2 separate regions of the Homo sapiens genome follow, and region 2 is linked to region 1. The links come from fine-mapping of genetic effects on gene expression. Tissue or cell type: tibial nerve. Region 1 holds a variant in brackets; the other region holds the start of a gene. All regions are shown on one strand. Distances are from middle to middle.

Region 1 (8,106 bases):
TAACCATGGGATGCAAGACTAAAGAGCAATTACATGACTATGTCAAACACTGGACAAAAATCAGTACCAATTAAATTCGTAAAAAAAAAAAACTCACAATTACATGACTATGTCAAACACTGGACAAAAATCAGTACCAATTAAATTCGTAAAAAAAAAAAAAACTCAGAAAGCTGGAACTAGAAGGCAACTCCTATCACTTGATAAAGATCATCTCCAAAATTCCACAGCTGACAGGACACTGAATAGTGAATGCTGAATGCATCCCACTCCCATCAAGAGCGAGGTTAGGGTGTTTGCTCTCACCATTCTCATTCCACTTGCTACTGGAACTTCTAGCCATAAGTGGCATACAGATCAGAAAGGAGGAAATAAAACTCTCTCTACTTGCAAATCACATGATCACCTCAATAGAAAATCCCAAGGAATTTAAAACCCCGAAACAAAACAAACCCCCAAGAACGAGTAAGTAATTTCAGCATGGTTACAAGGTTAGCCATACAAAAATCAATTGCATTTCTATATACTAGCAATGCACACATGGAAAGAAAAATTTAAAATACAAAACCACTTATAATCACCAAAGACATGAAACACCTAGATGTAAATCTAATAAATCATACATGCAAATCATATGACGATAACTACAGCATACTGATGAAAAATTTAAAACACGTTTAAACACATGGAGACATGCTGTGTTCCTGGATTGGAATACTCAGCATAATAAAGATGTCAATTCTCCTCAAATTGGTATACAAGTTTAATGTCATTGCCAACAAATTCTAATTCTCAGCAAGCTATTTTGTGGATATAGAAAAGATTGTTATAAAATGTATATGAAAATGAAAAAATACTAGAATAGCTAAAACACTTTTGAAAAACAGTGGGAGGAGTCATTCTATCTGAAGTTAACACCTACAATATACAGATGATCCCCGACTTATGATGGCTTGACCTAGGATGTTTCAGCTTTACAATGGTGCAAAACCAATATGCATTCAGTAGAAACAGCACTTCAAATTTTGAATTTCTATCTTTTCCTGTGCTAGTGATATGCCCTGTGATACAGGGCTGGGCAGCAGCAGGGAGCCTCAGCTCCAGTCAGCCTCGAGATCACGAGGGTAAGCAACCGATACTGATTCGTGACATCTTCCTGAGGAACACGATTCCTGCTAAACCACCAATAAGTGTAGGTGCCCTAGAGCCTTCCAGCAGCAATTCCCAAGCCATATCAGAAAAGAGAGAGGTTGGTGACCCTGCAGCACAACCATCGTCCAGCAGTTAATTTTAGTTCAGGGCTTTGAACGTTCTTCAGGCCCAGCACGCTTCCAGCTGTGTATGTTGATGGTGAGAACCCATGCAACCATCTTGCTTTTCCTTTCAGTACGGTTTTCAATAAATTGCATAACATATTCAATACTTTATTATGAAATAGGCTTTGTGTTAGATAATATTGCCCAAACATAAGTCTTCAGAGTATGTTTAAGGTAGGCGAGGCTAAGCTCTGATGTTTGATAGGTTAGGTGTCAACTTACGATATTTTTAATTTATATTAGAGTTATTGGGAGAAAACCGCATCAACAACTGAGGAGCATCTTCGTCTGTAGTAATCAAGAAAGGGTGATACTGGACAAAAGACAGATCAATGAAACAGAAATGGAACCATGCAGATATGCTCATTTGAGTTTTTACTAAGTTGCAAAAGCAGCTACTGGAGGGAGGAGGGTCTTTCCAGCCAGTGATGCTTGACCAATAAACAGCATCGGGGAAAAATGAACCTCAACCTAAACCACACTCTTTACACAAAAATTACCTGAAAATGGATCATGAATAGAATTGTAAATTGAAAAACTATAAAAACTTTAGGAGAAAACAAAGAAAATTTTTAAAACCAAGAGCTTGGTAAAGAATTCTTAGATATGGCACCAGGACCCTGATCTGTTAAAAAAAATCAATAAATTGGACTTTATCAATATTTAAAACTTTTAATCTACAAGTGACCGTGTCAAAAGAAATAAAATACAACCTACAGGTTGTGAGAAAACATGTGTAAAACACATACATGACAGTGGACTACTATCCAGAGTATATAAGGAACTCTCTAAACTCACCATAAAAATAGAAACAGCTCAATTAACTAGTTAGCGAAAACATAGATATTTCACTGAAGAAGAGGTACAAATCAAAAATAAGTACATGAAAAGATGTTCAGTATAACTAGCCATCAGAGAAATGCAAATTCAGACCATAATGAGCTATCACTAAATACCCACCAAAAGAACAAAAATTAGCTACAATAACACTTGCTGCTGAGGATGTGATTTCTCATACATTGCTGGTGGGGTTATAACATGGTACTGTGGAGTACAGTTTGGAAATTAAAAAAAACTAACATATACTTACCATATAATCCAGCAATTGCACACCTGGAGAGAGAATTGAAAACCTATGTTCACACAAAACACAGAATGTAAGTGCTTATATTATATTAATTTGCAATAGTCAAACACTGAAAACTATCAAAATACCCTACAATAAGATAATGGTTAAACAAATTGTGGTACATCCGTACCATTACTGAGAATTACAAATAAAAGAAAGTTTTGATACATACAACCAGTTGGATGCCTCTCAGGGGCACAATTCTGAGTGAATAAAAGCCAATCTTTAAGGGTCACATAGAGATTCTATAACATTCTTGAAGTTATAAAAGTGTAGATATGGAGAAAAAATTAATGTTGATGAGGATTCGGGATTGTGGGGGGCAGGAGGCTGAATATGACCGTAAATGAATAAGACTAGAGAGATCACAAAGAGTGATGATGCAATGAGTCTACATCTTGATTCAGTGGCAATTACACAAATCTACACATATGATAAATGAACAGAGAACTATACGCACAGCATTCCAATGTTAATTTCTTGCTTTTTATATGGTGTGTAGTTGTATAAAATCCAACTTTTGAATAATACAGGGAAACTCTCTGGATTGTATTTTTGCCACTTCCTGTGAATCTATAATATTTCAAATTTTGTTAAAGATTAAAAATAGTCTTCTGTGAATCACTTATTTCGTGAGTCAGGTGGAGATCAACATCAGCACAAAGAATGAGCCTCCCTCGTCTTCGTGTACCTCCACGGACTTCACTCCCTTAACAAAGGCTGGTGGAATGACATTCTAAGCAAGTAACAGACAACAGCCTGCAGGCACCAGTGCCCTTCCAGCATCCTCTAGTGAGGAGCAGGAGATTCCAGACAAAAGAGAAGTCTGCTGCACACTAGCCACGGGTCTTCAGAGGAATGTGACACAGCACAACTGCCAGAGCTGGAGGAGGCTGTGTCACCGCACAGCAGCAAGCAGGCTGGAGCCTGTGGGGCTGAGGAGCTATGCAATG[C/T]GCTGACATGCAGGTTGATTGAAAGGCTTCATTCACAGGGTATTGTATAACCCAGTAAGGTACAGCAATGGAGACTCTGTTCAAATTGAAAATAGAGAAGAGCACTAGGGTCAGAGAAAAACTTTTCATCAGAAGGAAATGACATTCTTTGGTCCGTAGGAGCTGGGGGCCAGGGGATGAAACAATGAGGATAGACGGCCGCAAACATGCATTTCTCTTTGTATTTGCAGGTTGCTAATGAGCTCATGGCATTGCTGCTGTGTTTGTGTACAGATTGTGAATTTCTCAGTATCATATATGCTGTAATTGATTTTATCTGCCTGGGTCCACTTTTATTTGAGGGTATGCAAATCACATGCCCCAGACAAAAGCTCGTCTCCTTCTCCTCTTAGCCACCCCACCTCTCACATGTCCTCCACCACGTCTCTCTCCTCTCCCTCTCCTTTTCTTTCTCCCGTCTCTTGAGCTCATCCTCTTTTTTTTGCTTCCTGTCCAACCCCTTCCCCCACCCCACCCGCATCCCTCTCTTCCCCTCCCTCCCTTCCTCCTGCCCTGTTTCCTTCCCTTTCTCTGCCCTGACTTGCTGACTGGCCCATGTTCTCGAGTCCTCACTGCCTCAGCCTTCTCCCATTCTGGACCTGTAGGAAACATGGTCTTGTTGCTCCCATATCTCTTATTTTATAATCGTGTACCTCAAGCCAAAGAGGAGAACCAGGAAGCTTGAAAAGCACACGGGCATTTAGACTGGTTCTCCAGCCTGGCAGGTTCATTACTGTGAGAACTGGTAACTGAATTGCATCTGAAGTGGCCAAAGAGAGTGTGATCTGGACACAGCCTCCTGCCAGCATCGGCGGGGAGGCAGTGCTGCTGGTGTCGCTCGCTGCTTCCAGTCGGTCATTTTGTCTCCCTCACTTATTTGCATCACCTCATTTAGGAAATAAAGTTAACATTTCAGGGCTCACATCTAAGTCTTCTGTTTCTCTCATTCCTGCTGCAGCTGCTTCCACCGCAGACCTGGTGCAGACACTTGGGGCCACCCTGGATAAGGGGCCAGCGTCCCTCTCGCCCGCAGCTGTCTGTGAGGGAGGAATCCGTGACACTGGGCTCCCCAATTGCTCTGAAGTTAGTACTGCCCATTCTCATGAAAATCACGCAGGCACTCCATACTGAGCTCCTGAAAAATGTCAGTCTCCAAGCGCCCACTGCCCACTCAGTGAATCCAACCATTCCCCAGGGCTTCAGCTTCCGACAGCTGGTGCACGCAGCGCTGTCTTCCCTCCCACTCGCTGCTGTCAGCCAAATGCTCACAGACACAGAGGGCAATTTCAGACAGCCCCTTGGACCCTGCAGAGAAACTTAGACTTGGATAGGCCTCTTGATTAAAATTTTCACCCACGAAGTCCCCATTTTACAAGGTAACTGCTGAGGCACCATGGGGCCCTTTGTACACACAGCAGGTGCCCACACAGTGATGCTGGGAGTGAAAACATCTCTTATTATTCTGAATTCAGACCCGTGAAGGCTGCCTGTCTCAATTCTCTCATATAAGGGAAGGGTGCCGGGTCAGAAGAGGCACAGAGGCTTTCCCAGAGGTGGAAGGAGAGGCGGCGGCTCCATGGGAAGCAACCCCGGCCCTGCATCCTGGTCAGAGCTTCTTTCCCCAACTCCACAGCAAAGCTGCTCACTCACAAACATGATGAGTGAAAACAAGAGAAATCCATGGTTGTGATTTGTGAGGTGACAGGAAAATCCAGGTCTAGACGCCGTGGGAGAGGGCACAGAGACCTGCGCTGTGGCCTCCCTCGAGGTGACAGGCACCTGGGCTCTGAAAGAGGAGACGGGAAAGCCAGCGGGAGGTGGGGACCCAGGCTGTGTCCAGCAGGGTGGACAGCACGTTTCAGTCCTGAGGCAGGAAAGCACTGCAATCCAAGAGACCAAGAGCAGGCCACGGTGGCTGAGGGAGGTCAGCAGAGAGCAGCTGGCAGAGAGCAGCGGGGGGCAGCCGCGCCACACGGCCACGTTGACCGGGTTGGGGCTCCGGGCTTAGCGTGTTGATAAGAAGAGACTGACGAGTCTTCAGCAAAGAAGTAAATGGTATCTATGTATCTATCTATCTATCTGTGTGTAAAATATACGTATATATATGTATGTATATATGTGTATTATACACACATAATATATATACATACATATATATTTATATAAATATAAATTTATATATATATAGAGAGAGAGATAGAGAGAGAGAGACAAAGCCTCCTTCTATCACCCAGGCTGTAATGCAGTGGCAGGATCATGGCTCACTGCAGCGTTGACCTCCTGGGGCTCAAGTGATCGTCCTGTCTCAGCCTCCCGAGTTAACGTATACTTTGAAAGATCACACTGGATTTTCTATGGTGAATGAGTTAGAGGAAGATAAGGTTGGAATCAGGAGGAGCAGTGAAGGAACTATGCTTAGATTTGGCTAGGCCTCACAGCGGGAGCTGTGGTCTGCCGTGAAGGATGACTGTGGCTCAGGTCCTGACGGTGGCTGTGAAGGCACAGAGGGAAGGGAGTCTATTTTGGAGGTGGAAATGACAGAAATTGCTTATGGATTAGAAGTGAGGAGAAAGGAAAAGGAGGCGTCAAAGTGACTCTTACATTTCTGATGAGCAATTTCTGGCTTCAGTTCTTACATTTCTGGCTTGGTGTGATTTTTGGAGATAATGAAGGCTGAAGTAGGAACAGATCGATGAGGGAAGGAGGACGTGGATCAAGGCTTGCATTTGTGTGCTTTACGTTTGGAATGGCAGTGAGTTATTCTGGTGAGGCTGTCACATAAAGAGCCCGCAGCTCAGAAGATGGGTCTGGGCTGGGGTGAGGCTGCCACGTGGGTGGGCAGGGGCTGGGATCACCCAGGAGAGGCGGGGGTGGGATATGAGCAGGGGGCTGGGATCACCCAGGAGAAGTGAGGGTGGGATGTGAACCTGTGCTGTCCTCCCAGAATGCTCTGCAGAGCTCCACACTTTACCTTGGAAAAGCTTATTAGCCCTCCGCCTCCTGAAACAGAATGCCAATTATTTATCAGATCAGCATTGGTCTCAGGTCTCGAGGGCTCATCCTATAGGAACCTGCTGGCCCATCTCACTCTTTCCATCTGCAGGAGAGGAAAGAGGCAGGAAACAGGGTGGAAAGGGACCTCTGCTTATCAATGCTAACGACCTACACCTGGCTGCAACAATCAGTTTATTAAGGAAAGGAAAAGCAACTTTTAGAGTGACTGGGCGCATGGCTGTGTTAATCACATTTGCATATTGTGCTCTATTTCAGAAGACTCCAACGCAATAACTCACAGCAATCCATATTTATGATTTGAAAATTGCTGACTGAATAATTATACATTAAGTAACTTCTGTTTCCTTGTATATTATTGTTTCTAATTAGCAATGGGGGAAAATAAAGTCATTATTATTTATGGATACAGCTTAGGCTTGGCATTTCTACCAGGCTTGCAGTCTTCACATCAGTCTCCAGCTCCTGCTGGGCTCCTCCGTGCAGCCTCCAGGAGCTGGCCGGCCAGGGCAGGCAGGTTCCATCCTCCCTCCTTCGCTCCCCCTCTGTTCCTCTCCCCTAAGAGTTTGTTCATGGCCGGGCGCAATGGCTCACACCTGCAACCCCAGAATTTTGGGAGGCCAAGGCGGGCAGATCACGAGGTCAGGAGATCGAGACCATCCTGGCTAACATGGTGAAACCCCGCCTCTACTAAAAATACAAAAAAATTAGCCAGGTTTGGTGGCACGTGCCTGTAGTCCATGCTACTAGGGAGGCTGAGGCGGGAGAATTGCTTGAACCCAGGAGGTGGAGGTTGCAGTGAGCTGAGACTGTGCCATTGCACTCCAGCCTGGGCAACAGAGTGAGACTCTGTCTAAAAAAAAAGAGTTTGTTCGTACAGACCACAGCGTTCCTCCATCCACGTGGTCCACACCCCCATCCAACACCATCCTTATGGCCTTTGACTATAGTTTCCTGTGCCATGAGAAAGTCCTCGTTCTGAAGTTTAACTCTCCAACACTGTCACATGAAACTTGCTCATCACAGTGGACTAGTCCCTCCGTTTGCCATTGTTGCTCCAGAGAACCATTTGCTGGAGCCTTGGCTAAATAGACCGCATGGCCTCTCTAGCCCCTGCTCTTTAGACCCATGCAGGGTAAACAATACGCCTTAAGTGAAACACAGAATTTATCTATTTAATTAAAAAAAGAAAAGCCAGAGGGCGTCAGCTGGCCACACAGTGATTAAGCCCAGCCGCGGAGGCCCCGCACTGACACAGCAGCCTGCCCCCCGCTCGCCTCTCCACAGCTGCCCAGTTATGTGGCCGTTCCCTTTCAGCCACAGCACCTCTGAGGCATGTGGCTGGAAAATTCCGGTCCATTCGGCTGTCGCATAATAAATATTGCACAACACACTTTACCTGGTTCAGTTTACACTTAAATAAAGACTTTTGGCTTAAATCAATGGGTCTTCACCTGGGGTTGCATCAAATTCACCAGTGAAATTATTGATAATACACAGGTATCCTGGCCTCACCACCAGAAATCAGGGCTTGATGGACCTGAAGCGGTCCCGGGCGGTAGGAGAGTTGAAAAGTTTCATGGGAGTTTCTGATGTCACTAAGGTTAAGATACTTTGGTAATCTAGAAGCTTCTCACGTTTGGCTTCAAAATGGCAT
Region 2 (8,106 bases), 390 kb after region 1:
AACCTAATGAAAGGGAAGAGTTAAAAGGTCTCCTCCTCTTTCTGTATCTGGGCCATGAACTCCACCACCCAAAACAGCACATCCACACACATCCGTCCAGGAGCCACTGTGGGAACAGTTCAGACACGCCTGATAGCATGGCTGGGTCCCTGGGGAGCTCACCCTGCCTGCCGAGGCAGAGGGCAGCTCTTCCTCCTCTCACTCCCCCTGCTCTCTGGCAGCATCTGGGTGTGCCCATGCATGTGCATGTGCTGTCACCCTTGCCAGGGCAATGACGGGAGAGGACGGGCACCTTGTGGGGTGGGATTCCTCACTGAAGAATCCCACTGGGACCTTTCCACTCACATCAGCAAAATCACTGCTATAGATTCCTGGTGAAGGCAAGGGGAGATTGGATGGCCCCCAACAATCAGACTGGCTAAGACGGGTGGGGTGAGGGCCTGGGCCCCACAGGCCAGGGCGGCAAGCAGCGCAGCTGCGTTGCCTCTCTTGGGTGGTAGCTAAGAAGGACGGCACGGCTGAAAAGGCAGTATCATTAGGAGTCTGGAGCAGACCAAAACTCCTGCTGAAAGAGAGGCCAGGGCAGACAGAACCCACGAGGGGAACAATTAACTGATAAGAGTAAACTAATTGTTATTCATATTAAATTAGGGCACAGGTGATTTGGAGAAAACCTACAGACCATCCCAGATGTTTTGCAGGTTTTGCATTGCAGATGACGGTTTTACAGGACTCTTCTGGGATTCAGATTATGGGAAGTGGGCCAGGATCAGAGCGGGGGCAGGGCTCCCGTCCTGCTTAACTACACAATAAACACATAACGGTTTGTCCCAGAGGACAAACCCGGGCTTTGCATACTAAACATGCTGGTGCTAGGCTTTGGGGGCCTCTGAGAAGAGGGGCTCACTACTGGCAGGGAAGGCAGGGGGAGGGGAAGATCAATCATTCAGGGAGACCTTAGAGGTGCTCCAGATGTTTGGAGCAAGGGTCAAGCTGTGAGGATGCACCAAGTCCAGACATGGGAGGGAAGGATTTCCACAGTCCTGCAGAGGCCAAGCAGGAAGACAGGGGTGGGAGTGTGGCTGACCCGGGGGATGGTGTGTGTACACGTGTGTCTGTGTGGGTGCAGGTGCTTCAGGTACATCCGTGTGCAAGCGTTTACATGTGCACATGATGTATTTCAGAGTGTGTGTGTGTGTTCATGTGGGTGAATCTGCATGTGTAGCTGCCTCTATGAGCATGTTTTGTGCCTGCGTAGATGTCAGTACATTTGTGTGTGTCCATACACTTGGGATGTTGCCAAAACTTCCCACCAAAACGAATGGCAGGCTGTTGTCTCTTCACTGAGCCTTATCATGCTAATTTTAATCTCCTATTATTGTTTTAAATTGGCTCTAAAAATTAATACTAAAAATTCTGTAAACAGAGCCTGGAACTAAGATGCAAGACAGGTCCCTTGAAAGCGGCTTTATTATCACAATTGTTCCTGCCAGAATGCTGAGGTAAAGCCGAGAACCCCTGCAGACAGCATCTCCGAGCCACAGCCCAGCAGGACAAGTCGGACCACAGCCCACTTAGTCCAACCCTCTGTTTCATTACTGAAACCAGCCCTGAGGGGAAGTCTTTTGCTAGTGCCTTCAGAATCGGCCTGAAACCCAGGCCTCCTCGTCGCCATGTCCCTGAGCTCTCTTGAGATCACCCCTCATGGGTGTGTTTCCCTGTTGGTAAAATGAGGGTCTGGAACGAGACAGTCTTCACGGTCATTTCTGTCCTCCCATTTGGTGATTGTGTGACTGCGGCTGGCTGGCTTAGCAGAGGAGGGAGGCAATGTGCCCTCCTGGACGGCCTGGCCCCTCCTTGGTGCTCTCTGGTACCCCCGCCCATCCTGCTTCTGCACCTGCCCTTCCCCTCCCTTCAGCTGGTGTGGAGTCTAAGGAGAAGCAGAGTATGGAGACTAGGAAAATACCAGAGAACACCGACTTAGGAAAGGTCTCTTAGCAGAGTCTAAAAGAGAGGGTTGTAGTAGGGGCAGAAGAAGGCGGAGCAAGGCTGGCTGGGATTCCACTCATTAAGAGAAGGGGGAAATGCTCCTGTACCGCAGCAGGAGGTACTGAGGTTAGATTCAGAGGAAGTTTCTTGCCGGCAAAGGGGGCTGTTAAGCACAACAATGAAAGAGCGCACGACAAGGAGGAGCAGTTATCCCTAGAGATAGTCACTAAGGACACTTTCACATGTCTGTGGCATGATACGGACGGTGAGGTGCCTTCCTCCCCTCAAAATCTTGACCAAAGGGGCTGATTCTGGAGTCTCTGCCCCCTCCCCACCTGCACATCCTCAGTGGGAAGAGCAGGGCCCGGCTTGGTCCTAACAGGGCAGGAAAGCTGATGGAAAAGAGGCCCGTGGTCCTCAGCCCCAGCCCATAGCACGGGGGCACAGCTCTGGTTAAGCAGTGCCTAGCAGTGGGGCTGGAACTGGTTTCCCGGGAAGGAGGGAGACCCTAGAGAAAGTACCGACAGTCCCTGGTCCCGCCGCGAACCCCGCCATGGGAGGTGGCCTTCTCCTGGGGCTGTGAAGAGGACACAGCGGGTGTGGCCCGAATACAGGTGTCCAAGAGCACCGGGAGATGCCAACCTCTAAAACGAGTGCAAGGATGGCTTCAAAGTCTCCGACAAGCTGAAGGAGTATCTGGAATATACAGCTCCACAGAGGCACCCTACCAGTGCACCCACATACGTCCAAGTGCGCGCCCACTCACTGGCCTCCGTCCCCCGCCGACCAACACACCGCGGCAGAGGCCCGGGAAACTCCTGGAGATCCCGCTGCCCCCGGCCTCCCCGCGCCCGTCCGCCCACGCAGGCCTCCCGGGCCTCTCTCCGGAACGCCGGGTGCACCGGCCCGGAAGGGGAGGCTGGGGTGAGGCTGACGCGCGGCGGCTCGAGGTGCCCTTCCACGGGGCAGCAGACCCCGTACCCCGGCACGGCACCGTCCGCCCCCACCGGCCACCTCCCATCCGGGGTGCCTGGAGCCAAGGAAGGAGCCGCATCCCCCACCGGCTTCCCAGCTCGGCCTCTCGGTCCCAGAGCGCCGCCCCCCGCCCTCCTGCAGCAGCCCGGCCGGAAACAATCACCCTTTGAGAGAGGCTGCCAAGCTGGGCGCCAGGAGCAGCCAGGATGGAGGCGGGGTGGAATGGGGGTGCAGGCGGGGGCCGAGCTTTAACTCTCGAGAGCCGAGATCTGGGGGTGCGCTCGGCCCCTGCCCGCCACCCCTGCTCCGCCGCCTGAAGCGGGAGCCGCCTCCGCGGGGGACGGTGCCGGGGGAGGGTGGGGGGCGGTGGGGAGGTGATACCAATCCCGGGGGGGGGTCCCCTCGCCGGCCTCCCTCCTCGCGCCCCCGCCTAGGCTGGCGAGGTTGGTACCGACCATTAGCAGCTCGGGTCCCGCCGGCGCTGGCGCGGGCTCGGGGCGGGGGCGGGGCGGGGGCGGAGAGCGGGTGGGGGCGGGGCGGGAGGCGCCGGCAGAGCCGCGGCGGCACCGGCGCATCCGCCGCCACCTCGGGGACTCTGCGCCGGCCCGGTCGGCTCGGCTCCGGCCGCGCGCCCCCCTCGCCCCTCTCGCCCCCGCGCCCGCTCCCCGCTCCCCCTCCCCGCTCCCCCTCCCCGCCCCCCGCCCCCCGCCTCCCTGCCCGCGCCCTCCCTCCCGCGCGCTCCCAGCCTTCGGCCGCCGCCTCGCTGAGCCCAGAACGAGCCGGGCCGGGGCGGCGGGGCCGGGCGGGGCGGGCGGGCGCGCGGACCCCGCGGCTATGAAGTGGCCCCCGGGGGCCCGGAGCCCGACAGTCCCCGGGGAGGGAGCCGCACGCGGCCCAGGGCAGCGGTCTAGGGGCGCCGGGGCCGGGGCGTAGGGGCCGTTGCCCGCGATGGACCGCACCGGAGACGCTCCGGACTCGTCGCCGCAGGTCAGTGCTCCCCGCGCCCCCGCGGGCGCCCCGCCGCGCACAGAGCCCCTTTCTGCGTCCCCATCGGTGCCCACGCCATGTCCTCCCGGGCGCGCGCTGGGGTGTGTGTGTGTGTGTGTGTGTGTGTGTGTGTGTGCGCTGCGCGCGCTGGGGGCAGCTGGAAAGGGGGCCGAGAACCGAGCTCGGGCTGGGAGGCGCTGCTGCCGAGGGGCTGCGAAACAAAACCCGGCACAGCCTGCCCTCGTCGACCGGGATTAGGGGAAGAGCTGGTTCTCAGCAGCTTCTAACAATCGGCCCGGGCTCTCAGTCGTCAGTTCCCGGCCCCCTCAGCAGGTGGTTTCTGGTGGCCGGATGAGGAGTCAGGGGTCAGTCGTCCCCCACCTCCCCACCCCTGCTGCCCAACAGCGCTCTCTGGATCGCTCTCTGGCTCCTGGGCACTGCCAAGTTAACTCTCTTGAGGGGGCCCGAGCTCTGCGGGGCGCGCTGAGGGACCCAGGGGTAGCAAGGGTGGCAAAGGGCCCTTGGGACCTTCGGTGTAGCAAGGAGGAAGGAGGCGCGACCAGTTCACCACCCTCCCATCTGCACCTGGGCTCAGGTCTGAGGTCCCAATCCCTCCAAAGTCAGAGCACACAACTTCCAGAAAAAGGAGGCTGAGAGTTGAGGCAGGAAATAGAGAAGGAAGCCACCAGGTCCGACAGTGCCAGGGTAAGGAGGTGACAGCCCCGTACCAAGCAGCTAAGGTCAAGAACCACCCCCACATGCACACACATGGGAGCCTTGGCCAACTTCCCTGTCCCCTTCCTCCCCCAGCCAGGCCTAGCTGCATGGATTCTTGTAGAAGCTGGAGCTGAAGGACTCTGGACATACAGGAAGGGGACCTTTACTGACAGTTGCTAGCCCAGTGCATGGGCACCTGCATAGGTGGGGTGCCCAATGGGGCCTAGAGCTTGGGCTGTGTAGCACGCACTGTTGAAAATGTTGGGGTACGGATGTCGTAGGGCCTAGCACTGTGCAATGCCTGGATGTGTTTGTGTGGAAATGGGAGGCACATCACTCCCTAAGTTACTAGGGCTGTGGGGCATGTGGCTGCACAGGACTGTTGTTCTAGGGTTTTCTAAGATTTGTCTTCTGTGCTTATGTCGCCCTACCTCTGCTGGTAGCCACTGCAGAGACTGAGACATTTCCTCCCAGAGTCTGCTCAGTTGGTGACCATTAATGGCCTTACTGGACCAAACATCAAGCCTTCCCTTTCTTCCCATGGGGTGAAGACCCTTTCCCAGGGTCTTCAGACAGACTTCTCACTCTGCCCAGTCCATGCCCAGCACTGCCAAAGGTTCCAGAGCTTAGAGACATTTTCCCTCTTCCCCTTTTCATGGAAGCAGAAATACTTGCTAAGGTTAATGGGACTGGGAGAGTTAATGCATCTGTGCCCCATTCAGCACTGGAGCCAGGAGCTCGCTGTTCCTGTTTCTGTGCCTGACCCCAGGATGCTTGGGGATCACTCCAGGTCCAGGTGAGCTGGAAGCTTGCAGGCGCTGTGTTGAATATGTGTGTGTAGGTTTCTGGTTGGGCAGTTACTCACTGTTCCACCAGAAGCAGGGGGCAGGTAAATCACTGAGGAGATAAGCTCCAGCAACAGGATTGGAGCCCGTGGCGGAGACCAAGGAGCTTCACAGGAGGATGCCCTGGGGCAAGCCCAGTTCCTCAGCTTCGGCTTCTGGGGAGACCTGAAGGTTCTCTTAGTGGTTTCTCGGGGATAAGGGGACCAAGTCAGATATACTTTTCCTAGGTGTGGAGCACAGGGTGATGAGGCCGGCCAGGAGCTGGGAGTGTGAGATGGGGAAGAGGATGCACCAACCGAAAGGCTGAGCGGACAGGAGCATGGTGCTCCATTGTTTCTGGAAGAGAGGGATGAGTGTTCCTCTCTGATGAGAATGGAGAGGAGGAGAGGAACGGGCTCAGGAGGAGGAGGAATCCGAGAGAGAGCCTGACTGAGGCAGAGAAAGAGGCAGTGAGACAAGAGACAAAGGCACGGAGGCGCACTGGCGGACAGCAGAGGGAGGCACACAGGCAGAAGTCAGGGCCTCCCTGACTGAGTGGTGAGTTGGGGCAGGCTGGGGGCCTCCCCCTGTTCCCCTACATCGACCTCAGCAATTGTCCACCCCTGCAGGAGGCCCCTCACTAGAGCAGTTGGACATTCTACTGAGGAAGGTGCTTTCCTGTGGCTCTCAGGAATGTGAGGGTCTTTTAGACAGAAGCCCAAAGGCAGAGGGAGGCCAGGCTATGAGGTCAAGCACATCAAGAGCTTGCAGGGACTTTCAGGGACACCCTTCACCCCTGAGCATCTCACAATGCTGAGGGCTCCTCTCCATCTTCTGGCCCTGCCCCAGCCCTCCTGGTCCTGGAATGCAGGGCAGTGGGGAAGGATGTGGGGTCTGGGGAAACCTGGCACTCAGGAGAAGAAGAGAAGTCATGCACCCCCTCCCCAGGCCCCCAGGCAAAAAGACCTTTGGGGACCCTACTGAAGACTAGCCAGGGGACATGGAAGAAGTGCAGTGGGGACAGGCCCTTGGCCAGGCTGTCTGAGGTCCAGTCTCATCTCCATCTGTGGCTAGCCGAGTAGACTTTGAAAAAAACAGAGCTCTCTAAGCCCCGGCTTCCTGGCAGTCTATAAATTGGGAAACTGTCATCTCACCAGTTTTTAGAAGAAATACTAGATGAATTTTAATTTAATCTATTTATTTTATACACCCTCACCCCCTTGCTTCCAGGATGAGGATGGCTCTAGAATTTGGAGTAGCAGCGTCAGGCCAGCCCTGGAGCCAATCCCACTGGAATCGGTGCAGGCTGTCCCACCTCCCTCCTCACCCCACTGGAATAGGTGGAGGCTATCCCACCTCCCTCCTCACCCCACTGGAATCGGTGCAGGCTGTCCCACCTCCCTCCTCACCCCACTGGAATAGGTGCAGGCTGTCCCACCTCCCTCCTCACCCCACTGGAGTCGGTGCAGGCTGTCCCACCTCCCTCCTCACCCCACTGGAATAGGTGCAGGCTGTCCCACCTCCCTCCTCACCCCACTGGAATCGGTGCAGGCTGTCCCACCTCCCTCCTCACCCCACTGGAATAGGTGCAGGCTATCCCACCTCCCTCCTCACCCCACTGGAATCGGTGCAGGCTGTCCCACCTCCCTCCTCACCCCACTGGAATAGGTGCAGGCTGTCCCACCTCCCTCCTCACCCCACTGGAATAGGTGCAGGCTATCCCACCTCCCTCCTCACCCCACTGGAATCGGTGCAGGCTGTCCCACCTCCCTCCTCACCCCACTGGAATCGGTGCAGGCTGTCCCACCTCCCTCCTCACCCCACTGGAGTCGGTGCAGGCTGTCCCACCTCCCTCCTCACCCCACTGGAATCGGTGGAGGCTGTCCCACCTCCCTCCTCACCCCACTGGAATCGGTGCAGGCTGTCCCACCTCCCTCCTCACCCCACTGGAATCGGTGCAGGCTGTCCCACCTCCCTCCTCACCCCACTGGAATCGGTGCAGGCTGTCCCACCTCCCTCTTCACCCCACTAGAATAGGTGCAGGCTGTCCCACCTCCCTCCTCACCCCACTGGAATCGGTGCAGGCTGTCCCACCTCCCTCCTCACCCGCTTGAGTCCTCACACCTCCAGACTCTGGGCTGGACCCACCCTTCCTTATCCCAACCCAAAGAACCCAGAGCCCGCCTTGGCTCAGAGTTCGTCCTTGCCAAACACAAAATAATACTTTCGTGTCTAATTATTGTTAAATGTAATCCTTCCAATTTATCAGCAAATGGTCGTCTAAAAAAAAAAATCTTGACACCAAAATTCCAGATCTGTGAGCCCTTCTTATCCATGCTGAAAGGTGACAGGGTGGTCAGAGAGCCCCCAAAATTCAGTTCACTTGCACCAACACTGACCAAGCACTTACGGTGTTGGAGGCTCTGCACCAGGTGCTGGGAACGTGAAACATCAAATAATCCAAAAGTCCAAATCTAGTGTTTTCTGTTTAGCTTTGGAAGGGTTATGTGGGTTGCTTTTTTTTTTTTTGCAGCTACAGCAAATTTACTTTTCTAATGAGGTTTAGCTCCAGCCAATATTAAAATGAGCCTGCGCTCCCTGCGCACACACCAGC

What was found. PIP is the estimated chance that this variant, and not a neighbour inherited with it, causes the effect.
Region 2: it holds the start of B3GAT1, and the variant in region 1 is fine-mapped to the expression of B3GAT1 in tibial nerve (GTEx, PIP 0.95).

What each region holds. Positions count from the first base shown.
Region 1 is chr11:134,797,527-134,805,632 of GRCh38, reverse strand. No RefSeq gene overlaps it. Among named protein-coding and RNA genes, the nearest start is that of LINC02714, 66 kb to the right of the region's middle. RefSeq lists an enhancer at 3,369-3,869. The variant C/T (reference allele first, on the strand shown) is at 3,399.
Region 2 is chr11:134,407,652-134,415,757 of GRCh38, reverse strand. It overlaps B3GAT1 (beta-1,3-glucuronyltransferase 1), which reads left to right and starts at 3,516. Exons shown (of 6, transcript NM_054025.3): 1 at 3,516-3,951. RefSeq lists an enhancer at 4,368-4,927.